6 separate regions of the Homo sapiens genome follow, and regions 1, 2, 3, 4 and 5 are each linked to region 6. The links come from fine-mapping of genetic effects on gene expression. A gene starts in region 6. Each other region holds a variant in brackets. All regions are shown on one strand. Distances are from middle to middle.

The links. PIP is the estimated chance that this variant, and not a neighbour inherited with it, causes the effect.
Region 1: its variant is fine-mapped to the expression of GPR137B in whole blood (TOPMed, PIP above 0.99).
Region 2: its variant is fine-mapped to the expression of GPR137B in whole blood (TOPMed, PIP above 0.99).
Region 3: its variant is fine-mapped to the expression of GPR137B in whole blood (TOPMed, PIP above 0.99).
Region 4: its variant is fine-mapped to the expression of GPR137B in whole blood (INTERVAL, PIP above 0.99).
Region 5: its variant is fine-mapped to the expression of GPR137B in whole blood (INTERVAL, PIP 0.92).

The regions. Positions count from the first base shown.
Region 1 is chr1:236,103,269-236,107,356 of GRCh38, forward strand. No RefSeq gene overlaps it. Among named protein-coding and RNA genes, the nearest start is that of GPR137B, 37 kb to the right of the region's middle. The variant TAAGAG/T (reference allele first, on the strand shown) is at 2,443.
Region 2 is chr1:235,982,337-235,986,424 of GRCh38, forward strand. It overlaps NID1 (nidogen 1), which reads right to left. Exons shown (of 20, transcript NM_002508.3): 15 at 3,043-3,169. Among named protein-coding and RNA genes, the nearest start is that of LINC02768, 12 kb to the left of the region's middle. The variant C/T (reference allele first, on the strand shown) is at 2,024.
Region 3 is chr1:236,205,911-236,209,988 of GRCh38, forward strand. It overlaps GPR137B (G protein-coupled receptor 137B), which reads left to right. Exons shown (of 7, transcript NM_003272.4): 7 at 2,140-2,997. The coding sequence ends at 2,248. Among named protein-coding and RNA genes, the nearest start is that of GPR137B, 65 kb to the left of the region's middle. The variant G/T (reference allele first, on the strand shown) is at 2,166.
Region 4 is chr1:236,279,311-236,283,398 of GRCh38, forward strand. ERO1B (endoplasmic reticulum oxidoreductase 1 beta) reads right to left here and starts at 2,648. Exons shown (of 16, transcript NM_019891.4): 1 at 2,372-2,648. The coding sequence starts at 2,473. RefSeq lists an enhancer at 2,043-2,242 and silencers at 2,313-2,362, 2,403-2,992. The variant G/GGCCCGGCCCT (reference allele first, on the strand shown) is at 2,269.
Region 5 is chr1:236,216,448-236,220,535 of GRCh38, forward strand. It overlaps ERO1B (endoplasmic reticulum oxidoreductase 1 beta), which reads right to left. Exons shown (of 16, transcript NM_019891.4): 16 at 1-2,129. The coding sequence ends at 2,069. Among named protein-coding and RNA genes, the nearest start is that of ERO1B, 63 kb to the right of the region's middle. The variant T/C (reference allele first, on the strand shown) is at 2,572.
Region 6 is chr1:236,140,271-236,144,358 of GRCh38, forward strand. GPR137B (G protein-coupled receptor 137B) reads left to right here and starts at 2,269. Exons shown (of 7, transcript NM_003272.4): 1 at 2,269-2,766. The coding sequence starts at 2,353. RefSeq lists silencers at 2,008-2,187, 2,258-2,527 and an enhancer at 2,493-2,996.

The sequences.
Region 1 (4,088 bases), 37 kb before region 6:
CACAAAAGGGAGACACTCTCCAGCAAAGCTGCCGCTAAGCAGGGGCTCGGCGGTGACTGCAGCTGGTGCATCTTTTCTTGTTTCCGTTTTGCTGTGGTCACTTGATTTTAGAAGTTGCTGGAGGTACCTGTCCACCCCCTCCTCAGACAAGGGGCTGGGTTGGTTTGCAGGTAGAATCACTTTCCCTTTTCTCTGGACTTGATTTTCAGGCCAGTGGACTTGCGCAGCCTTTGTTTTGGCTGTTGTCCCTTCTCTAGTCCTTGCTATGTTGCTGAATATTAGCACAGTATTTGTAAGGGAGGGTGGGTTGGAGTAGAATGAAAATTCAACCATTTTTGCCTGACAGCAGATTTGATAGAAGTTTTAGTAGAGGAGAAGTTAGAATTTAACTCATGATTCATTAAATATATGTTTTCTATATTTCTTCTTATAAGAGATTTTCGACATCAATCATGTATCAAAGAACAGAATATACATACAATTTCCATTTTGTCAGTTTTATCCAATTCATCCACATCATGCAGAAACAGAAGTTTCCAGTAGATGGCGCCAAAGTCTGTCTTTTCTCCGCCTCCCTGCGCGCTCTTCGTTGTTTCAAGATCCGCACATCAACCAACCCTCCAGAAAATGACATTTCTTTATCAGCGCAGACCAGCACGAGGTGCTCTCCACAGCAGAAAATCCCAGTAAGATGTCTGGCAAGAAAAATAGCCCCAAGAGTTGTAGCCCTGGGCAGTAAAACCAGAAGCCAGGAATCCTGGTTTCCAAACAGTTGATGGGTTTTGTGCCAGTTCAGTTTTGAAGCAACGGCCCTGCGGTACTGAGGGTCAGAGCCGTCTCCCATCTGCTCCCTCTCTTCCTCCCACTGGCCCCCATGGAAGCAGCTGCCCAAGCTTCTTGAGAAGGTGAGTGCCGGAACTCCAGGACAGGAAGAAGACTCTAAGCTTGGTCTTAAAAGACCACAAAGCGGCCTGGCGCGGTGGCTCACGCCTGTAATTCCAACACTTTGGGAGGCCGAGGCGGGCTGATCACGAGGTCAGGAGATCGAGATCGTCCTGGCTAACACGGTGAAACCTCGTCTCTACTAAAAATACAAAAAATTAGCCGGGCGTGGTTGCAGGCGCCTGTAGTCCCAGCTACTCGGGAGGCTGAGGCAGGAGAATGGCCTGAACCCGGGAGGTGGAGCTTGCAGTGAGCTTGCTGGATCACTCCAGCCTGGGCGACAGAGCGAGCCTCCATCTCAAAAACAAACAAACAAAAAACACCACAAAGCATGAGATCCAACAGCCTGGGCAACATGGCGAGGCCTTGTCTCTAGAACAAAATTTTAAATTAAAAAAATTAGCCAGACATAGTGGTGTGCTTGAGCCGTAGAGGTCAAAGCTGCAGTGAGCTGTGATTATGCCACTGCATTCCAGCCTGGGCAATAGAGTAAGACCCTGTCTCAACAAACAAACAAACAAAAAGCCAAACAAACAAAACCCCACGAGATCCTAAGGTTCCCATGGCCTTTCTTCTTGCACTGGGCCCATGACTCTGCCTCAGGCTGTGACCGGGACATGAATGGAGAGGAAGGAAAGGGAAATGGTAAAGGGGGCAGGATTGTCTCCAAGTACTTCCCCAGGTCCAGGGGAAGAGGGCTGGCAGGTGAGGAAACCAGAGAATGGGAAACCCAGGCTGAACCCTGATGTTGAGCCCGAACGCTGATGCACTGCCGTCTGTGTGCATAGCACAGTGAAAACTGCAAAGAGATGTGGTTCCTGGCCTCCAGGAATTAACGATCAGGTGGAAAGAAAGTTCATTCCACCCAGGGATGCGTTGGAGCCAGCTAGCACCTTTGAGCTGATTGTGCACGTCTCTACACAATGACACCATGACGTTGTGTCAGTAGTTTCAAATCCGCCATGTGGCAGTATTCACACCAGAGAAATCAGCGAACTCCACAAATCAGGGCTCCCTCCACTCCCCCAGAGCTGAACTTTAAACATTTACCTGCATGCTGGTGACTCTGCCTCACTATAGCACAAACTGCTTAAATAAAGGTGGGGCGGGACATTTGGTCACAGTCGGGAAGCAGTTGAAAGTGTCATGGGTTTGAGTCTAAGGTCAAGCTCTTCCGCTGATTGACTATCTGACCCTGATTATCTCCACCTCAGCCTCTGCCTCTCTTTAATGAGACTGATGCTATCTACCCTAGTTAGTTACAGAGTGGCTGGGAGGCTTAAATGAGATCGGTCTGTGTGGATACTATGTAAATTATAATGGATTTTATCAAGGTAATAGATGCAGCTTTAAAACATTCATAAAATTATGAGAATGAGGCCTACCAAATCCCAGTTTCATAAGGATACATATGATAATGCATATTTGTTTGATTTCCCATTTATTTAATAACACTTATTGACACTACCCATATGCTAGACGCTGCTAGTTGGGCAGTCT[TAAGAG/T]AAGATGTAAAAACACTTTGTAGATTACAAAGCTTTTTTTTTTTTTTTTTTTTTTTTTGAGATGGAGTCTCACTCTGTCGCCCAGGCTGGAATGCAGAGGCGTGATCTTGGCTCACTGCAACCTCTGTCTCCAGGGTTCAAGTGATTCTCCTGCCTCAGCCTCCCAAGTAGCTGGGACTACAGGCATGCATCACCACACCCAGCTAATTTTTGTAGTTTTAGTAGAGATGGGGTTTCGCCGTGTTGGCCAGGCTGGTCTCCAACTCCTGACCTCAAATGATCCGCCTGCCTGGGCCTCGCAAAGTGCTGGGATTACAGGTGTGAGCCACTGCACCCGGCTGATTACAAAGTTGTTTTTTTTTTTTGGTTTTTTTTTTTTGAGATGGAGTCTTGCTCTGTCACCCAGGCTGGGTGGAGTGCACTGGCGCAATCTCGGCTCACTGCAAGCTCCGCCTCCTGGGTTCATGCCATTCTCCTGCGTCAGCCTCCCGAGTAGCTAGCTGGGACTACGGGCGCCCACCACCACGCCCGGCTAATTTTTTTTGCATTTTTAGTAGAGACGGGGTTTCACCGTGGTCTCGATCTCCTGACCTCGTGACCCGCCCGCCTCGGCCTCCCATACAAAGCTTTTATACAAGTCTTTTGTAAAGTAGAAGGCATCATGCAAGGAAAAATGTTGTTTTTCTCAGCTTTCTTCATCTTTTCCAATCTGGACACACATTTTCACTGCAACTAATATTATACCGATACTTTCATTAGACTAAAATACCTGGCAGCGGTCACAGACAATGGTGTGGAAAGGAAACCAAGACAAGAAAACATCCTTGCAATATTTGGCTGAGGCAGGAGAATGGCGTGAACCCGGGGGGCGGAGCCTGCAGTGACCCGAGATGGCGCTACTGCACTCCAGCCTGGGCGACAGAGCGAGACTCCATCTCAAAAAAAAAAAAAAAGGCCATAATAAAATTTATACAAAATTATTTCTATGTATGCCTATATGAATAGGGAAGAATATACATAAAGATATTCACAGTGGCTATCTCTAGGTGGTAAGATTATTTTAATTAGCCTTTCTTGCTCATATGTAATTTTTATTTTCTCTACAAAAATTGGCTACGAAATTTTGGAGATAAAAACTGAGAAGTAAAAGATCTTCATGCAGCTATTTATTTTGTAGAATTACAAATATGGATATGAAAGGAGCCTTACAGGTCATCTGGTTTCATAAGATGGGGAAACTGAGGCTGAGGGAGATGGGAAGGAAATAACTGAGGACTTTGAGTTTTCTCTGAATTTGCATTCTCTTTTTTCTCTCCAAATGTGTGTGCGGAGCTTTTGATAATTAATCTAAACCTGTATACTCTACAATGAGATTCTCATCTTTCATTATCTTTCTGACTTTTTGATGTATCTGCTTCCTCTGGTATGGTCATTTGTCTTTGCCTTGTTTCTAATTTTTTTTTTTTTTTTTAACATTCAACTGACTGCTTGGTTTCTCTTTTCTTTGAAAGACTCTTGATGTAAATAAGCCCTTTATCCCTATCTGGCCTCTTTAATTATATCTTCTCACGTTTGCTTTCTGCTCTCTACCGACTAATTTCTCAGAAATTTGCAAGGGTGAATCACAATGCCTCCAAGCCA
Region 2 (4,088 bases), 160 kb before region 6:
AGAGATGAAGGTAGGAGGCCATGTTAATGAACTTAGAACTTAGGCAGAGGGGAGGCAGTGGAAGATCTTAAGATAGGGAATGGAAAAATAGTTCTATCTTGTTCATTAGCTATCGGGGATAAAGGTCATTGAAATAATACTTTCAAGAAACCATAGCTGCTATTACTTTCATACAAGTATAAGGGGTACAAAGAAGGGGTGTCAGTGATTACAAATAACACCCCAGTCTTTACTGGGTTATAGCAACTGATTTTCAAGCCAGGAGTTGCCACTGGGTAACATGAACCTTCACTGCAAACCCTCAGCACCCATCTAACTTTACTGGAAGCTGAAGATTACATTGGTGTTTTATTATATAGTTTTTTTAAATTAATAATAACGATTGTGTTTTATTGATATCACTTAGGACTCTTTCCCTTCTACTGATTAAAGGAATGAAGGTCATTTAGTATGACTGGAGTATAAGCAGGAAGGAGAAGGGGCTACCCTACCTGAGGGATCTGGGGTATGAGGCAACCATTCCAATACTGTGGGTTTTTTTGTTTTGTTTTGTTTTTGACAGAGTCTCATTCTGTTGCTCAGGCTGGAGTGCAGTGGTGCCATCTCAGCTCACTGCAAACCTCCACCTCCTGAGTTCAAATGATTCTTTTGCCTCAGCCTCCCGAGTAGCTGGGATTACAGGTGCGTGCCACCATGCCCGGCTAATTTTTGTATTTTTAGTAGAGACAGGGTTTCACCATGTTGGCCAGGCTGGTCTCAAACTCCTGACCTCAAGTGATCCCCCGCCTTGGCCTCCCAAAGTGTTGGGATTACAGGCATGAGCCACCACACCTGGCTCCAATACTGTGTTCTTCTGTGGACATACAAGCAGTGCAGACCCTCAGCCCCCTTTGCATTAGCCTTCGCCAGAGCCCTAATATGATGGTGACCTTGGATGCTGGACACATCAGAGCCCCCAGAAAGAAAGCCCGCCAGAGGAAGTTTATTGAGAATTAGAAACCCCACTTGAACAAGATCTTTATTATCTAAACACAAAGTAGAGATTTTTAAAATATTAAAATATTTCCCATGTCCCTAGATGAACAGGGACAGTGAGACTGACCTCCAAAGGTCCCTTCTGGCTTTCAGATAGAAACAGAATAAGTCATTCTGGAGTATATTTGGAATGAGCACATCCTGTGTGAGAGACAAGAGCCACTCAGATATACGCAAATAAAACAGAGAATATAGGCTGCTCTGTGAGAGCATCTTTGCGAGGCACCTGGAGGAAGCTCCATGAGCTCCGTGCATATTGTCTCCTTAGAACCAGCCTTGGTCCCGATCTCAAACCCAAGAGCAACCAACCCCCTCTCCCTCAACTCAAAATACTTCTTTATGAGCTACTCTTCCAAGGGAAAGGTCTGGATAATCTTATCCTTCAATGTGCAGTCCGAGGAAGAAGTATTCCTTACTGCTTACCTCAAAGATATGATACTTTTTAGAGATACTTGGTTGGGTCTGTAACTCAAGGAAAGAAAGAAAGCCTGGGATCCGGGCTGTTATGAAATAAGGAAGAAATGAAAATGATACCTAACTGTCACTCTCACTCACTAGGGAAGCACCAACCTGTACCATGCTAAGGAGATAACTGGAAGCTTCTTTCTCTCTTAAAAAAAAAAAAAAGAAAATTATTCCCAGTGATCTTTCTTCTACAAAGATCACATTTTGGTTTAATTCTGTGTTTTCACAGTAACTAGGCTTTTGCTTGGAATGCTTCTTACTGTGCTTACAGCGTTCTTGGATGGTTATGAGCTCCAAAAGCAACAGGAAATAGCAAACAATGACCTATTCCCCTCTTCCACTGGGTTTTAAAATGAAATCATAGATAATAACAATAACATTTTTAACACACGGAGATAGGCATTTTCAAACTGTTTTTCACTAAACCAAAGCATGAAAACTGGAAGACATGATTTAAATAGCCTGTTGGCTTCCAGAAAAGGGTTCAGGGTCTATGTCCAAAGCCAGACATAGTTAATTCAAC[C/T]TCAGCTTCATTCCTGCCGCATCATCTTTACTGAAGGCAACAAAGAAGGGAAAAAATGCTTCGGGAGTTGTTCCACAGGCACAGGAAATCTTCTAGAATATCAATTGTGAGGGAAACATTCCATTGAAAATAGAAAAAACTACATTCAGTGCCAAGTAAAAAGAAATACAAAATGAGGCTGCTCTATTTTAAAGATGTATCTTTGATGTGAATATTTTGCAGAGAACGCAAGGTGACTCCACAGAACAAATATCATCAGCATGACAATGCCATAGGAGCAAAAATATTCCCAAGTCAGTTGATGAGTCGCTGAATTAAGCAACATGTAATACTTGACCATTTCAGCACAGTGGAATTTTTAGAGGCCTTTGGATTTTTGTTGTAATGGTCTTTCAACTAGATAAATCATACCCATGTAAAACAGTCTTGATTTGTTGAAGGTAGGCATGAAAAACAAAGCACAGAGTCATTGGTTGAAATTGGCATCCTTAATGAGGAATTTCCTCAATTGAGGAATTGAGGTTGAACACTGAAAAGTAGATTGTGCCTGCCGGGCGCCGTGGCTCACACCTGTAATCCCAGCACTTTGGGAGGCCGAGGTGGGCGGATCACGAGGTCAGGAGATAGAGACCATTCTGGCTAACACGGTGAAACCCTGTCTCTACTAAAAAAAAATACAAAAAATTAGCCAGGCATGGTGGCGGGCGACTTTAGTCCCAGCTACTCGAGAGGCTGAGGCAGGAGAATGGCGTGAACCCAGGAGGCAGAGCTTGCAGTGAGCCAAGATCACGCCACTGCACTCCAGCCTGGGTGACAGAGTGAGACTCTGTCTCAAAAAAAAAAAGAAAAAAAAAAGTAGAACGTGCCTAAACTTTACACACTTTATCGTAGTAATGCAACAAAAGACTGAGAAATGTTTGTGAAAGTTTGGCTTCATTTGCTGTTCTTCTCTGGCATACATGGCCACTTTGGCTGCTAGAAGCAAAACCAAAAAGGAAAAATGATATTTGCTTACTTACCTTGTCTAATGATGGTGGTTGGCTCTCCACCATGTAGACTAGCTCTCCCAATGGAAGGCTCAGTGATGTCCGTCCAGTAAACCATCTTGTCCACGCAGTCAAAGGCCAGTCCAATGATGACTTTAGCCTGGATGTGAAGACCAGTGGTTAGAATGGTCCATCTACAAGCATCTGATAGTGAGAATCTTTTTGCGTGCCTACAGGCATTTGGATATCTTTTGTAATGAAGTGTCAAGTGTTTTGTTCATTTAAAAATTTTTATTATTGAGTTGTAGGAGTTGTTCGTATATTTCAGAAAAAACTCCTGTCATATACACATATATGCACATCTATATGTATAGGAATTTGTGTGTGTGTGTGTGTGTGTGTGTGTGTGTATATATATGCATAAATATGTATTTTTTGAGACAGGGTCTCTGTTGCCCAGGCTGGAGTGTAGTGGCGTGATTACTGCTCACTGCAGCCTCAACCTCCTGAACTCGAGTGATCCTCGCCCTCAGACTCTCAAGTAGCTGGGACTACAGGCATGTGCCACCATGCCTAGCTCATTTCTTAAAATTTTTTGTGGCAACAGAGTCTCACTGTCTTGCCCACTCTGGTCTTAAACTCCTGGCTCAAGCAAGCCATCTGACTCAGCCTCCCAAAGTGCTGGGATTACCAGCACCAGCCACTGCACCCACCCATTATTTCTTCTCAGTATGTAGTTTGCTCTTTCATTTTCTTAATAGTGTTTGGAAGAGCAAAAGTTTTTGATGTTTAGTAAGTCTAATTTATTATTTTTTCCCTTTATGGCTAATGCTTTTTGAATACTAAGAAATCTTTGCCTACTTGAAGGTGATAAAGAAAAAGAAATAAAAGGCATACATATTGAAGAAGTAAAATTACTCTATTCTAAGATAATATGGTTATTTATGTAGAAAGTCATGGGGAATCTATAAAACTGCTATAATCAAAAGTGAATCTAGCAAGGATGCAAGATACAAAGTCAATATAAAATTATTTTTCTATATACTAGCAAAATATAGAAAATAAACCTTAATAATTGT
Region 3 (4,078 bases), 66 kb after region 6:
GGAAATACAGCACTTGTCTATGGAATCACTCAATGGAACATGATATCTTTAATCACATGTTCTAAAGCTAGAGAGTAAATGCAGTAGTATTTATTTATTAGAATAAATTATACATTATAAAGGACCAAGTTTTCAAATTTGAATGATGTCAGTTCTTAATTTAAAATTTCATTTACATGAAGGGTATTTATTTGGTCTCAATTTTCATGAATACTTATTTAATAAATACTTCTATAGCATCTACTCTGTATCAGACACTGTTCTAAGAGATTCACAAATATCAACTCATTTAGTCTTAACAGTCCTGAGAGGTCAGTACTATTATTAGCCTCATAATACAGATGAAACTGAGGTATCTAGAGGGTAGGTAACTTGTCCAAGGTCACACAGCTAGCAAGTGATCAGGCTACAATTCTAACTCAGGCAGTTTTGTTCAAATTTGTTTTCTGAATCACCATACTATGTAAACAGTTTGTATATAAGTACCCTGTCTCTTAGTCTCACCTACGCTTATGTTATACTTTCACGTGAGTTTTAATAGCAGGAGTCTCCTTCCTTGAATCTACATGCGGATCTGGCCCAGAAAATGTGGAAAGGGCAGTTAAATACTGAGAGTTCAAAGCAGCATACATAGAGGGTGTAAGACAATACATGAACTACCAGTCCGCTGCCATCGCCTAATCTTCAGTGAATTGGGAAGGCAAATAAAAAGAGGGAAGCACCTGAAATTGCAACCATAGCAGAGATCCACCCCAGGATTCCAAGTTTTGCTTACCTCAGCATGGGCATGGTCTGCAAACAGGAAGGGTAGTTGCTATTGGGATTCCCTTCCCTTTTCCTCAGCCTGCTGTGCTCAGCCATACTCCACTACCCGATGACTATCATGTTTCCCCTTTCAGCCTGTGGCTCTGAGACGGTGAGGCCAGCAGGGGTGAGAGGAGCCAAAAGGGCTGACATAGTGCCTGCCAAGCCTGTCTTCTCTCTGCTTGTCCTCTCAGGACCCCCATCCTGTTCCTGGGAAAGGGGAGCTTCTTAGAAAGTGAAAGGTTATCTTATGTAATCTTTTGTAAGATTAAAGACTTAGCATTAACAACTTTACAACTTTTTTCCCTCTGGGATGAAATGATAAAAAATATATGCTTGCCTTTTTACTCCTTGTTAGTAACAGTGAAAGTCTTTAGAAAACTTTTTAAGAGAGCTCTGAAAAGAGTCCTTGTTTTAGGGACAGAAGTACTGAAGAAAAGCTGGGAGAATACATGCTTTCTCAGTGATCGGGGAGCAGAGAAATCCTGGTCAGATAGGATAAAAGATTGTCGCTGAGAAAAAAGAAGAAAGCTGCCCAATGCGCTGAGCCAGCAGATGTAAAGAACGTAAGCTGGAAGCAAGCCAACAAACAAGAAGGACTTCTTGAAGTCAAAAGCTGTCCTTTGGGTCACTCAGATTCTGAGCTCCACCTCTTCCTTAAAACTGTTCTTTTCCAGTTACCCCACTGCATCTCCTATTAGTTGCTTTCCCCTTTAAACCCATATTCTGCTAGAGCTGTCCCACCCTCTCACCTGCCAGAAATGACTTAGAGCTGAGGGAGTCCTCACTACCGATATGGTGAAGACAAGACCCCCTTTCTACTACATAGAGGAACATAATTATAATGAAAACGACTTACGTGTATTGAGAATTAACTATATATTAGACACTGTTCTAAGCACTTTACAGATGTTAACTCAGTCCCCACAATAGGCCCACGACGTAGTTACTAATATTACTCCCATTCTAAGATGAGGAAATTGAGGCATAGAAGTTACTTGTCCAAAGACACCACCACAGGTTGTGAGCTGTACTCCATGTTAGGATTCAGATGCAGTTTGTTGCTGAAAACATTTCCTATGCATAGTGACTGGCTGGGTTCTCTAGTCATGCTGTATACTCTGTGCTCTAAAGAGTTCAGTAGAGTTGTCGGTGGGCATTTCAGCCCTGTGTGTAGCATGGTTTTGTGGGAAAATGGACTTTAAGAGCCATTTAAAAGAACTTTAGAGTTATCTATAGTTTACACAAAAATCTCAGCTCTGTCTACCTAAACTAGACTATGTCATACATACTATATAATGTTTCAAGTCACTGAAATATTTTTTTCTTTTTAAGTTTTGCTCCAGATTACTATGATTGGG[G/T]ACAACAAACTAACAGCTTCCTGGCACAAGCAGGAACTTTGCAAGACTCAACTTTGGATCCTGACAAACCAAGCCTTGGGTAGCATCAGTTAACAGTTTTATGGACGATTCCTCAGATGAAAAGCTTCAGAAAAGCATAGTGACAGCTGAATTTTTAGGGCACTTTTCCTTAAGAAATAGAACTTGATTTTTATTTGTTACAGGTTTCCAATGGCCCCATAGGAATAAGCAATAATGTAGACTGATAAACCCTTATTTTAGTACTAAAGAGGGAGCCTTGCTATTTCAGTGGGTATAATTTAAACTTTTTAAAGAAAATCTGTACTTTTATAAAGATGTATTTTGTATAACTTAAATAATAATGCTAAAGTATACTAGGGTTTTTTTTTCTTGAGAATGTTACTGCAATCATGTTGTAGTTTGCACAGACTTTTATGCATAATTCACTTTAAAAATATAGAATATATGGTCTAATAGTTTTTTAAAGCTTTTGGACTAAAGTATTCCACAAATCTTACCTCTTTAGGTCACTGATGGTCACTCCGATTCTGAGTGCCACATTGGTAGACTCCTAAAATACAGTTGACAACTTAGCCAATTGCAACTCCAGTGTTGATAATTAAAATGAAATGGTAAAGCAGCAGACTGTAAGGTCTTTAGAGATTTTTTTTTTAAGGTTCAGGCCGTAGGTTCCTCAAGGAATCTCTTAAGTTTTGCCCAAAGACTGGTACTTCCTTTCAGTAGGGCGCTAATGTATACACATTAATGATAAGTTGATAACATTAAAAATGTAGCTGACTTATCCTATTAAACCTCCTCTGCTATGTTCACAGATTCTGCATAGTTTTTTTTCAGCCTAATGAAATCTAATATGCATTACCTCAGGGCCACATCAAGAATACACCCCTTTCCGAACTCACTGAATGTTCATTACATTCAAGGAGAAAATAAGAGGGTCCATAAAGGGCATTAATAACAAATACCCCAAGCCGTTGAGCTAAGACTATGTGGAATCCTAATAGTTTTTTCCGTAATCTCCAACTATATTTAAAATAATGCCCTTCTAAATAGCTCTGTAAAGAGCCTATTGGAAGCTGCACATTTAAAAATGGCAATAGCACTGCAATATGCTGTAGCATGATGCCTGTCAGCCATGTTCCAGACAATTCCTTGTAAGTCATCTTTCATTTAAGTAAAAAACAGGTTATGAAGTACTGCCTCCCAGACCGGAAGTGCCATTCTAAAAACTCCACTATATATATCCTGGAGCCATAAAACTGCCTATTGGGAGGCTAAATGCTCTGCTTTTCTATAAAACAGAGATAAGGTTCTAGAGGAAGTACTGTTACCAGAAACAAGGCACGTTTCTTCTCTGCCTAGGAATGCTCATCTGGGGACAGAGGGAAGGTTCAATGAAAAGGAACTTATATTAACAAGTCCTACTACATGATGCAACCCATTTCAAATGACTCCTCTCATTTTGATCTTCAGGAATAACTGATCTCTGGGCATTGATTTCACAGATGAAGTCTACTATTGTTTTGGTAGTATTTAAAATTGGGATCTCAAGTTTCAAATTGATCATCATTGGGCTTTTCATGTGTATAGAACACCTTCACTCTGCATAATCCTACATAACAACATTCTTGTCTTCTAGTACATGAAAAAATTGGGGTAACATAGCATTTAAAGTAGTTATCAGGGAAAAGTCTATACTGAAGTGAACCCTACACTGTTATTCAAGTTGCCTTAACACATTATAAGCTATTATTCTAAATAGCTTTAACAGATTATTGTGGTCACACTGTATTACTAATAGTTAATTTAAAGGCAGACTCAGCATGTTTTAAACTCCTTTAAGTTACATCTTCAGAAAGTCCTGAAGTCCTTCAGTATTAGGTCAGCTAAGGGAA
Region 4 (4,088 bases), 140 kb after region 6:
TGGCCAACATGGTGAAACCTCATCTCTACTAAAAAATACAAAATTAGCCGTGTGTGGTGGCACACACCTATAGTCCCAGTTACTCGGGAGGCTGAGACAGAAGAATCACTTGAACCCAGGAGGTGGAGGCTGCACTGAGCCAAGATGGCGCCACCGCACTCCAGTCTGGGTGACACAGAGCGAGACTCCATCTCAAAAAAAAAAAAAAAACAGCACAGTAGAAAGTACTGCTGGCGGCCTGGGCGCGGTGGCTCACGCCTGTAATCCCAGCACTTTGGGAGGCCGAGGCAGGCGGATCACCTTAGGTCAGGAGTTCAAGACCAGCTCGGCCAACATGGCAAAACCCTGTCTACTGGGAAAAAAAAAAAAAACACACACACAAAAATTAGCCAGGCGCGGTGGCAAGCACCTGTAATCCCAGCTACTTGGGAAGCTGAGGCAGACAGAATTGCTTGAACCTGTGAGGCAGAGGTTGCAGTGAGCCAACACATGCCATTGCATCCAGCCTGGCCAACAGAGTGAGACACTATCTCAAAAAAAAAAAAAAAAAGAAAGTAAGTACTGCTGGCAACAAAAACCAAATATATTCACTTGGAAGACTGTTTGGCACAATGCTACTTCAAATATTCACAAATCTTTAACTGTTGGACTATATTTATATTCATTTGGATATAATGAAATTAAAAGTACAGGGGCAGGCCAGGTACAGTGGCTCACACCTGTAATCCCAGCACCTGGGAAGCCAAAGTAAGAGGCTCGCTGGAGGCCAGGAGTTGAAGATCAGCCTAATAACATAGTCCCCATCTCTACACAAGAATTTTAAAAATACAGGTGAAATTATAAAACATTAATTACACATAATTAGTGGTAAATGAAAAAAATTTAAAATGAAGTTTCTAGACAGATAAGCATAAATTAATATGTGCTATATAAAAAGAGAAAATGGGAACTCTCATTTCAGAAAAATATCGAATTGTAAATTTCACTCAGAAACACTCAACTAGTGACTAGAAAATAATTTTGCCAAAGACAATTTGGAAAATTTACTTTAGTAAGTCTGCCCAGATTACCACTATCTATTCCATCTCAGTGTTTTCCAAGTGAGGTCCAAGAGGTAGTCAAAAGATAACTTTGCTACAGTTATACTGTACTTGCAATGTTTGTTTAAAATGCTGATATCTGGGCCATATTCCAGATCCAATCAATACATGTGGAGGTAGGGCCAGAGAATCTGCATTTTAACATGTTCCCCAATACCAAAAATTTGCCCCTTTTATTTTTATGGTTCAAACACAGACACAAACGGACTATTCAGGCACTCTGGGATTTAGTGCAGGGCACCATAAAACCATGAAATAAAGTGACTCAATTCAGAAAAACATGTTTTCACGGTTACACTCAGAGTCACCTTCAATTTTTCTTGGATGAGCACTAATTGCTTCAAATGACATCTCCCCTCATCATCAGGCCACCTGAGACCTTCGTTTTATTTTTTTGGCCCTCAGCAGTGCTGCCTCCTTGCAGCAGGTGCAGACAACAAGCAGCAGCACCTGGCAATCAATTCAAATTCTACTGAATAGAAGCAAACACCTCTCTGAAGGCGAAAGGATCTGGTCAGCTAAGCCTCAGATTTCTAGCACACTGAGAACACTTGTAATCATCGCTTCACATCAACAACCAGCCAGCACCTCACGACTGCCAGAGCCAGAGCCTCCATCCACGAGCCACAACGCCCCACTCAGACCCCCCCAGTCTCGTATTGGGACTTACCTGGCGATGCCACTTGGCAGACACAGCTCAGCTGGGTAAAAATAAAGCAATCTTGAGCAAGGGAAGGTGCTCGAGGAAGAGTAAAAGCCCAGAAAGCTCTAGTCCGACAGTTCGAGTGAAGTCTTGCCCCCTCCCAATCCCCTGCGCCTGGCGGGGCCTCGGGGGTCTGCGGAGTGCCCCCAACTCTCAGTCTCCCTCCCTCACTAACTCCTGAAGGGAAGGACGTCACCGTTTCTCTGGGCGCTCGCTCCCTTCGCAAGACAGCCGAGGTGGTTCATGCCCGTCCCATCTCCCGCCACACTCCCAGCCGCTTAACACATCCGAGAGGAAAAAACGAAAACAGCTCAGGGGGACCGTCACCATCTTCCTCTTTTGACTGCCATTACCCGGAGTGTCGCCGTCCCCCCACCCTGCGGGCGGTTCGCAGATGTTTCCCGCACTGGACGGTCAGGTCTCTGCTCCCCGGGTTTTCTGCTCGCCAGAAATCACCTCTTTTCT[G/GGCCCGGCCCT]GCCCGGCCCTGCCCGGCCCTCCCCGCGTCACAGCCGCGGCCCGTGTGTAGCGGCCGCGGGTGTTCGGCCGGGGGTTCCCGGCCCGCTATCACTCGGGCTTACCTGCGCCTCGACGACGCTCCGCAGGAAGCTCAGGGTGACCAGCAGCTGCACCGCGGCCGCTACCCCCTGCCCAGCGCCTGCCCGGCGGACCCCTTGGCTCATGCTGACCTCTACCCACACCGCGGCCAGCCGGACCCCTCGGGGCCGGGGAACGACGGGCGGCCCAGGCGACGACCCAAGGGGACGGTTCCCAGCGGCCGAGCGACTCCAGGGTCAGAGGTCTGCACTCCAGTCCGGAGGCAGGCGACTCTTTCCCCAACACCCGGCAGCTGCGAGTGAGGCAGGAAAGGCGAGCGCCCCCACTTCATCCCCCAGGCGGCCCCGCCCCCGGCTCGCTTGGCTCCTCGGCCACGCCCCCAAGCGCGGGGCCTTGTGGGAGTTGTGGTCCTGGGCGGTCGCCTAGGCGCCGCGGCAGGAAGGCGGAGCCGCTGAACGAGAGGACTCGGGAACTACAACTGCGAAGGCCGCCCCGCCTCCCCGAGGCCTCGGGCTCCGCGGCGGCCAATGAGGCGGGACCACGCGGGCCTCCAAAACACCGGGGGGTGCGGGCGGGGGAAGCGGGGCGACCTCTTCTCCGGGAAACCAGGCTGAGGACCTCTCTGCGTCGGTCCCTGCTGTCGCTCCTGGAGTCCTCGCAGACGCCAGGCTCTAGGATTCACCCAGTACGCGGGCGAGTTAGGAACGGACGGTGCGGGATCTTTGACTTTCGGTCTGAAGCGTATTCTTTGTCTCATTCATTTTTCTGTAGCCTCACATCTGCTGTGGGTGCCTATGTAAGCTACCTGTGACTTGTAGAGATGGCTTCGGCTCTTTTTTAATTTCATGCACCCTAGATGTGGATGTCATCTCCTGCCCCGCCCCAGCCCGACTCCTAGGTTGACACGTGCGAGTATAACGCATGCTAAAGAATGAAGACAAACCCAAAGGCTTATGATGAAATATGGGGATGGGGTAAAACAAAAAAAAACTTAGAGTGACATAGATTGGGCGCAGATCCCAACTCTAAAACATTCTAGCTAGTTATTGGGCCTTAATTCCCACCTCATATCTTGTTCTAGGGCTACATAAGATTAGATACAGAAAGAGCTGAGTATAGTGCCTAGCACCTAGGAAGCACTCAATAAATGGTAACTGCTATTAGTTTTATTAATGCCTTTGATTTCTACAAAACGAGTAATACATCTCCCTTGTGTTTATGTAGCGTGTATTAGTTTCTCATTGATGCTGTAAGAAACTATCACACATTTAGTTGCATACAACAAAAGAAATTCATTACCTTATAGTACTGGAGATCAGGTGTCCAAAATGGACCTGTAGGGCTGTGTTCCTTTTGGAGGCTCTCAGGGACAATGTGTTTCCTTACCTTTTCCAGCTTCCAGAGGCCACCTGCATTCCTTACCTCATGACTTCACATCTCCTTCACTCTCTCTGCTTCCCTCGTCACATGCCTTCTCTTGTGACCCTAACTCTTCTGTCTCTCTTGTATAAGGACCCTTGTGATTACATTGGTTACAGACCATCCTATCTCAAAATCCTCAACTTGATCACATCTGCACAGTCCCTTTTGCCATATAGGATAACATATTCACAGGTTCCAGAGATTAGGATGAGGATTTATAAATAGAGGGTCATTAATCAGCCTACCACATAGTGGTTTATACCTTTCAGAACCAGCAGAGCATTAAACCAAATGCAGGGTCCTGGGGTGGCTGACTGC
Region 5 (4,088 bases), 76 kb after region 6:
TTATGATAAAATAAGATGAATTTCAGCCTAAGAATACTTCATTTATTTTCTTAGTTGTGAAAAAATTAGTTAAGAACCTTAAAAAGAACTTTTTACTCTAACCAGATCTTTTAATTTCCTAGAACATACTCTAATATACTAGTTTTCCTAAGCTTGAAACAAATCACAGTACAGAAAAAAACAATAAATGGACATGAGCGAGGATTTTCTCCAGTAAACAGTTTAAATAATAGCCTTTAACTGAGGGAGTGGTGAAATAACACTATCAAAAAGTTCTTTACATTTAGAGTGATAAACAAAGTGCAGATTTTTCACATCTTAAACTCTGAGTGAATACTAAGAATAATTCTTACTAATTTACTAGTTAAATTAATTGGATAGTCACTTTTTAGACAGTTTGCCTTAAGGCCCCCCTCCCCCACCATACAATACTTGCAACCCTCAAGAAAAAGTAGAGGAGGCTCCAATCAAGTCAGCCTTTTAAACAACTTAACAAAAAATACTACCACCATCAACAACAAAACCCCAAGTTTATAAAGGTTTGAAATTAGGTGAGAAAATAAATAACTCTGAGACCTTAATACCCCCACCACATCCCACCAAGAGATGGCTAAGTATTTTTAAGAGGGGTGAGCCAAGCCAACTAAATACAATTTTTTAGATGTCACCAAATCATCAATGAACACATTTCAGACTTTGACAGGATAAAATATGGATTTAAGAGCACTTATTCTTTAATTCAGAAAAGACTAAAGAGTCTAAGGAAAAACTCTAGATCTTGTACCTGCATTACTTCTACACAGATGCAATCTTCCAAATTGTATCTGCTGACATTTAAAAAAAATCAAGATTTTAAATATTGTCTAAAGATTTTAAATCCCAGATTTAGAAAATGACAGTTTAGGACTGTTGGTATGAATCACAGAAAGTCCTCTGTTGGTATGAATCACAGAAAGTACCGTTTATATACAGTGAAAAGAAAAGGTGAGGGGAGAGTAAGCTTAAAGGAGGGTTGACCTAATCTACCTTTTTATATATCCTGTCAGGGAAAAGCACACTGAGTTCGAGGATTGCATAGATTGTATTCTAAAATAAATCCTTTAAAAATGCTTACTTTAAGTGAAAATAGCAAATTTTGTGTATATAATATTTTCAATTGGCATTATAAATTCATATAATCCCATTTAAATTTTATCAAGAAGTAATCTGTTAAATATTTCTGCAGTGTTTTCTTTCTAAAAGTAACTGACAATTTCCAAAATGTCTTTGTCCCTAAAATTTCTAGGGGCAGAGAAAAGCAAAATCAAAAGGAGTTCTAAGTAAAAGAACACTCTTGGGCCAGCCCATTACACACACAAAATCTGGCTGGGTAGCATAGGGGAGAGGTCTTGTTCACCTTTACCAAAGGAGGTCCTTTAGACTGGAAACAGCAACAATTACAGCAACTAAAAACTGCAAATAAAAACCAATGAAATTGAAGTCCTGGGGAATCTTCAGGAATTTCTGTAACTATGCATTGAAAGGGCCATTCATCATGGTGACAGTTCCAGATTCTAGAAATATTATAGTATTTCTTTATATTATAGAAAGTGACACACACACAGTGAGGCAAGGGTAAAAACACATTAAAAAGCATTGATAAATTTTTCTCACTGACACCAGCCCTGAGCAACATTTGTTCCCTAGTTCTCCTTTTCCATAACAGACTGAACAGTGTTATTAGAATGCAGACATAGCCATTTAAAGTTTGACAACTGGAAATAAAGGATAATAGAATAAAAACAAAACCAATTCTAAAAAAAATAGAATTTTCATTACATGAAAACATATGAAATTAAACACAAAATTAGTATAACTTACATGTTTTAAAAGTATATACTTCATTTATAAATATCTCTAGTTGATAATAATCTATTAAGAATCATAAATATTCAAGTGAGCATTTAAATTTTCTATTTAATAGTTCAGAATTCTTGAAGTCAGATTAGTGTCTTTCTGATGAATGTCCATAATTAAAAGGCTTTCCACAGTCACTTTATGTCTCTAGTTAGACACATAAAAGCCTTTATTACCTACTGTGTTGTAATAAGACTTTAAAATTCTGTAAGTCTCTTATACTTGTAGAAAGCCTATGGAAGAAAGAAAAAGCTTATTAGTAAGGCTAACATGTTGCATACTGTTTCAAATTATTGATATTGTTACATAAGCTATAATTTGAAAGCAAAACCTAAAATAAAAAACCTCAAACACTGAAGCTTCCATGTTTAAATTAGTGTTCTCATTAAGACTGGTTTAGAAGGGGCAAAGGAAGCCTGTTACTTCATACTATCTACAGACATTAGATTAATAATGGGAACAGTGATATGAATAATTCTTAATAAAGAATCTCAAATCATTTACAATTGGTCTAATAAATTTATTTTGCACATTCCTCTTCAAATGATTGCTCTTTACTCAATGTTCCCCAAACACACTAATTTGTCTTATGTTGTTAGCTCCCTAAGGGTAAAGACTCTATTTCATCTCCTGCTGAGTCTCTCTCCTGTGCCCCATACCCATTGATGCTTATAG[T/C]ATTCAGTAAATGATTACTGACTGACTAAATGAAGTGCTTCTCAGCCCAGGCCAAAAAGTAAAACTCTGGGATGGGAAATATAAAAAAGTAATTCTAAAAGCTCAAGTATCCCTATGTACAATTCAGGGGTGATAGAAGAAAAATCTTTAACTATTTGATAGAAGAAAAATTATTCCTTAATCACTTAGGAGGACAGGCAATGTTCTAAGCCCATCACATATATGATCTCATTATCAGGAAACAAACTAGGAAAGCAGTGATTTGCCTGAGTTCATACCACTACTAAAGGGCAGGCCAGGATTCCAGAACTTTAGGACCCCTGATTCTGAGTCCATTACTCTAGGGAACAATAAAAGGTAATAAGCTCTAGATATAGAACTAAAACAAGAAAGGCTGCATTTGTGAATATTTTTTATGAGATCGAAGGAAATTTTCAATTGTTTTGAAATTCTCAATTGTTTTCATCTTTCTCAATTTAATTTGGACTTAAGAGATGCTTAAGTTATTTACAATATTTTTCATTTCAATTTATTTAAATTTCATTCAGTATCTCCTGTGTTATCTTTCTACAGGCCTCATAAGTGGATGGACTGAATTTTTTATGAAATACCAGTTAATGGATAGTCTATATCTATCCTGTGTCTGAAATCTCAACCTACATAGTCATCTTTAAATACAGGGAAGCAACAGCTGAAATCCTTGTTATTAAGATGGGAAATGGCCAGGTACAGTGGCTCATGCCTGTAATCCCAGCACTTTGGGAGGCCAAGACAGGAGAATCACTTGAAGCCAGGTGTTTGAGACCAGACTGGACAACAAAGTGAGACCCCCATCTCTACAAAAAAAATTTTTTAATTAGCCAGGCAAAATAGCATGTGTCCGTAGTCCCAGCTACTTGGGAAGCTCAAGTGGAAGGAACGCCTGACCCCAGGATTTGGATGCTGCAGTGAGCCATGATTGTGCCACTGCATTCCAGCCTGGATGACAGAGCGAGACCCTCATCTCTTTTAAAAAAAAAAAAAAAAAAAAAAAAAGCAGGGGACATATAATAAATCTGTTTTTAATTTAACTGCTTCTTTTTAACTTAAAACACATGTTAAGAAAACCAAGAAATAATCTTTGTATTACTTAGTCCCCTATTTTTTTTTTTTTAATTCTTCCTCAAGTTGACTTTTTTCTCTTTTTCCCCAAGGAAGCATAGTATTATTTTCTGTGATTCTTTTCCTTCTGTTCTGTATTCCTCAGTTGGCATTACATGTATCTCTGCTGGCAAATTCAAATTATTTTTTAAACCACTGGTGATATAAACAAGCAAGCAAATTATATGTCTCTATACAGAAGTAAATCATGTAGAAATGAGTGAAAGAAAAATGACCTCTGAGCTTCAGAAATAAAGAGCATAGTGCAGGAAAAAGGTGAGAAAAGAAAAAAATAGTAATGAAAATTTAAGAAAAATAAGGAGCAGATGAAGGTTTTAATTTTCTTTTATCACCTTCTCAATCACACATTCCTTACT
Region 6 (4,088 bases):
TGGCTTTCAGCTGTGTACAATGCCACGTGGACTAAAACTACGTTTCCCAATCTCTTGTAGCCAGCTTGCTAGGGTAATTAAGTCCTAGCAATGAGCTAAAAGTGGATGCATTATGTGGTCTTTCTGGGAAGGCTCCAGAAACAGGAGAAAACAAGTGCTCTTTAGTCTTCCCCTGTTCCTCCTAACGCTGGCCTGGGATGTGGACTCAATGTCTGGAGAGCCAGTAGCCCTCCTGGATCATGAGGTAGAATCCATGCACACTGGAGGGAGAAATATCAGAGTCTGGACCTCTGTTGACAAACAATATTCCTTCAGTGTAATAAAATGTATACGGATGCTTTTCCAATGTGCCAGGGGAGAGACTGGTAAACAAGCCTAGTTTCTATCATAAGGACACATAAATAAGTGTGTTGCGGGGGAAACTAACAATCAGGCAAGGATATTAGGGAAGCACACAGGTGAAACACCTAGCCTAATCCTGAGAGTTTGGTGGGTGGAGAGTTCTGGAGAGGCTCTCTGCAGGAAGTTACACCCTCATGGATAGCTAGGAAGGACCAGCTGTTGGAGGAAAGGGCAGAATTTTCTTAGTCTAGGGGAGTCAGGAGGTGTTAACACTGCTTAACACCTTGGAAGAGATAAGGCAGGGAGGTAAGCTAGGGTAGGAGTTTAGACTCTAACCCCAGAACTATGAGGAGCAAGGGAAGGGCATTTAAGCACGGGAGTAAAGTGGCCAGGTGTTCTTTAGAGCGATCATTCCATCATTCCACTTGCGCTGTTCAGAACGGGGATTGAGGGGAACGAGATCAGAGGCGTGGAGCCCAATTCCGTATTTCCTCTTGAAATAGCGATAGGGAGAGAGGGAAAGGATAGAAAAACTGGAAAAGGAGCTCCACGCCAAAGGCACACTTGGCCCCAGTGAACCACCTGGAATACGCTGGGAGCGCTGTAACCACTAAGTAATTCTGAGCAAAAGCTAGGGTGGATTCTGGATATGCCAGGCCGTCTTTTGGAAAAAGAACACACAATTAGGCACGAAGTGGAGTAAGAAAAGAAATCACAATTACTGGAGCCTCGGAAATCCGAGTTTCTTCTGTTTACCAGAACCGCTTGCCCAGCAATGTTTCCAGAGGGCGCCCGGCTTTCCCTCTTTTCCCAGAGCACTCCCCAGCTCTCCCAAGACAAGGGTGGCGTGGTGCCCCGGGGCAAAGACTAAGTCGCTGTACAGCCTCGAGGAGCGAGCTGCTCAGCAAAAGCAAAAGAGAAGGGCTCTCGGGTGGCGGGGACAGACCCTCCTTCGGCATGGGTTGGATCGGACAAGGGGGGCCGTGTGCCGTCAGCTGCCCCACTTCTCTCTGAAGCCCAGTGGGCTCCATCCACTGACCCGCGGCCCGCGCGCCTCCCGGCACCGGCTACATCGCTGGGAGGTGAGGCGCTGGGAGCGCGTGAGGCTCTCCGGGAGAAAACAGCCCAGCTTGCATCCCAGAGGAGGCAGCAGCCGCAGGCACCGTCTATTTCCTCACTCAGTATACAAATTTGACCTCAAAAATACGAACCCTGTCTTTGGCATGTCTGCATTTAGAAATAAACATCATTCCAGACGCCGGCCAGTTCATAGCCACAGAGTCGTAAAGTTTTATTTTTAAAGGGGGGGACGGAAAGGACTTGTAAAGTTTTTTTTTTAAATTTGTTTTTAAATAAAGGAATTAACTTCTGCAAAACAAGCAATCAGCAGCAGAATGCGCGAGGCCACGAGTGCGATCCCCCGAGGCGCGGGGCGCGGCTGGGAAGTTTTGGGGGCGCGCGGCGCGGTGCCGGGACCGGGGAGGAGGCGCGCGGTTCTGGGGGCGCGCAGTGCGGGAGCGCGCGGCCCCGGGGATGGGGAAGGGGCCGGGGACGGGTAGCGCGCGGCCCCTGGGATGGGGAGGGGGCGGGAAGGGGGGAAGAGACGCGGGGCTCTGGGGGCCCGCAGTCTGGGAGCGCGCGGCCCCGGGGATGGGGAGGGGGCCGGGAGGAGGCGTGCGGCTCTGGGGGCGCGCACTGCGGGAGCGCGCGGTGGCGAGGATAGGGCGGGCCGGGGTTCGCGGGGCGAAGGCGCGCGGTGCCCGGGGGAGGGCGGGCCGGGGCGCGCGGGCCGGGGCGGGGGCGCGCGGGCCGGGGCGGGGGCGCGCGGGGCCGGTCGGCGCGCGGGGGCGGCGGGCGCGGCGCTGCCAATCGCAGACAAAGGCCGTCCCAGTGAATCATGTGGTGCCGGGGGAGGAAGTGCGGCTTGTTTTCTTTCCTCCAGTCTCGGGGCTGCAGGCTGAGCGCGATGCGCGGAGACCCCCGCGGGGGCGGCGGCGGCCGTGAGCCCCGATGAGGCCCGAGCGTCCCCGGCCGCGCGGCAGCGCCCCCGGCCCGATGGAGACCCCGCCGTGGGACCCAGCCCGCAACGACTCGCTGCCGCCCACGCTGACCCCGGCCGTGCCCCCCTACGTGAAGCTTGGCCTCACCGTCGTCTACACCGTGTTCTACGCGCTGCTCTTCGTGTTCATCTACGTGCAGCTCTGGCTGGTGCTGCGTTACCGCCACAAGCGGCTCAGCTACCAGAGCGTCTTCCTCTTTCTCTGCCTCTTCTGGGCCTCCCTGCGGACCGTCCTCTTCTCCTTCTACTTCAAAGACTTCGTGGCGGCCAATTCGCTCAGCCCCTTCGTCTTCTGGCTGCTCTACTGCTTCCCTGTGTGCCTGCAGTTTTTCACCCTCACGCTGATGAACTTGTACTTCACGCAGGTGAGTTTCAGAGAGGCTCCTGGAGGCGCTCACCTGGCGGGGTGGTCCCCGCGGGGCGCCCGAGGCAGGGGCGATGGCAGCCGCGGGGGCGGGTCCGGCCCTAGGGCTGAGAGTGTAGGGAGAAGGCGCCGGCTCTGGGGTCGTCCGAACCCTGTCCTGTTTGCGGGCATTTGTCATAGGAAACCCCCTGCCATTCCCAAAAGGGGCAAGGAGAAGGCAGGGGAGGGCTGGAGGCCGCCGCTCACTCGCTGCCCCTGGCTCCGCATCGTGCGGTGGATTCGGGGCGCTTCTCCGTGCGCAGCGCGAAGCAGCAGCGCCTGCACACGCCAGTTAGTACGGATGGAAGGTGTGCCCCCAAGGGAGGCCTGAACTCTAGAATTTGCCCTGCCTCCCCAGGCACCTAACTCCCGGCCTGGAAAGGTCTTCTGCACGTTGGCCTCCAGATTTGGGCCTGACACTGCTGTTTTGAGCGTTGGCAGGGTGAGACCATGTTGGTTTTGATGAGATGTTTTGAACCTCCGGCTTAGGAGCTCTACAGAACTGCGGCTTACTAACTCATTCCACCGGATTGCTAAACAGCAGGCTGGGGTAACACCCAGCTCCGAGCTGCTGCCGCTCATCAGAGTTACTGTCTGAGCTCATCTGAGAGGCCCCAAGAAAAGGCCATAAAAGCTGACTGGGGCTCTTTTACAGCCACACAAAAATCACTTTATGGGGCATATTATTAAATAAGCTAATGGGAGAGTATGTGAATTAACTTGGCTGCTGCTTTACTGCTGATGGTTGACTTAATGAAAGTGCAGTAATTGTTGAGCACTTTGCAAATACTTTGTATAGCGTTGCACAAAGGTTTAATAACGCGGTGCCGCCGTCATCATCGTCATCATCATCTCTGATTCCCATTAGCTTTCCAAGCACTAAGATGTCCATTTTCACTAGGACTCTGCCGAAGGGGAAGGCGTCAACGGTGTCACCTGGTGAGGGTAATTTCAGAACTGTCGGATGGGCAGAAACCCTGTGCAAGCAGGCATCTCATTCCTTTTAAGTGTCTTTTTTTTTTTTTTTGAGAAAAAGTCACTTATTTAAAAAAAGAAAGAGGCCGTATGCGGTGGCGCATGCCTGTCATCCCAGCATTGTGGAGGCGGAGGCGGGAGGATCGCTTGTGTCCCTGAGTTTGAGACCGGCCTGGGCAACATGGCGAAACTTCCTCTCTACAAAATGTACAAAAATTAGCTGGGTGTGGTAGTGCCCGCCTGTAGTTCCAGCTACTCAGGAGGCTGAGGTGGGAGGCGGAGCCCGGGAGGCGGAGGTTGCAGTGAGCA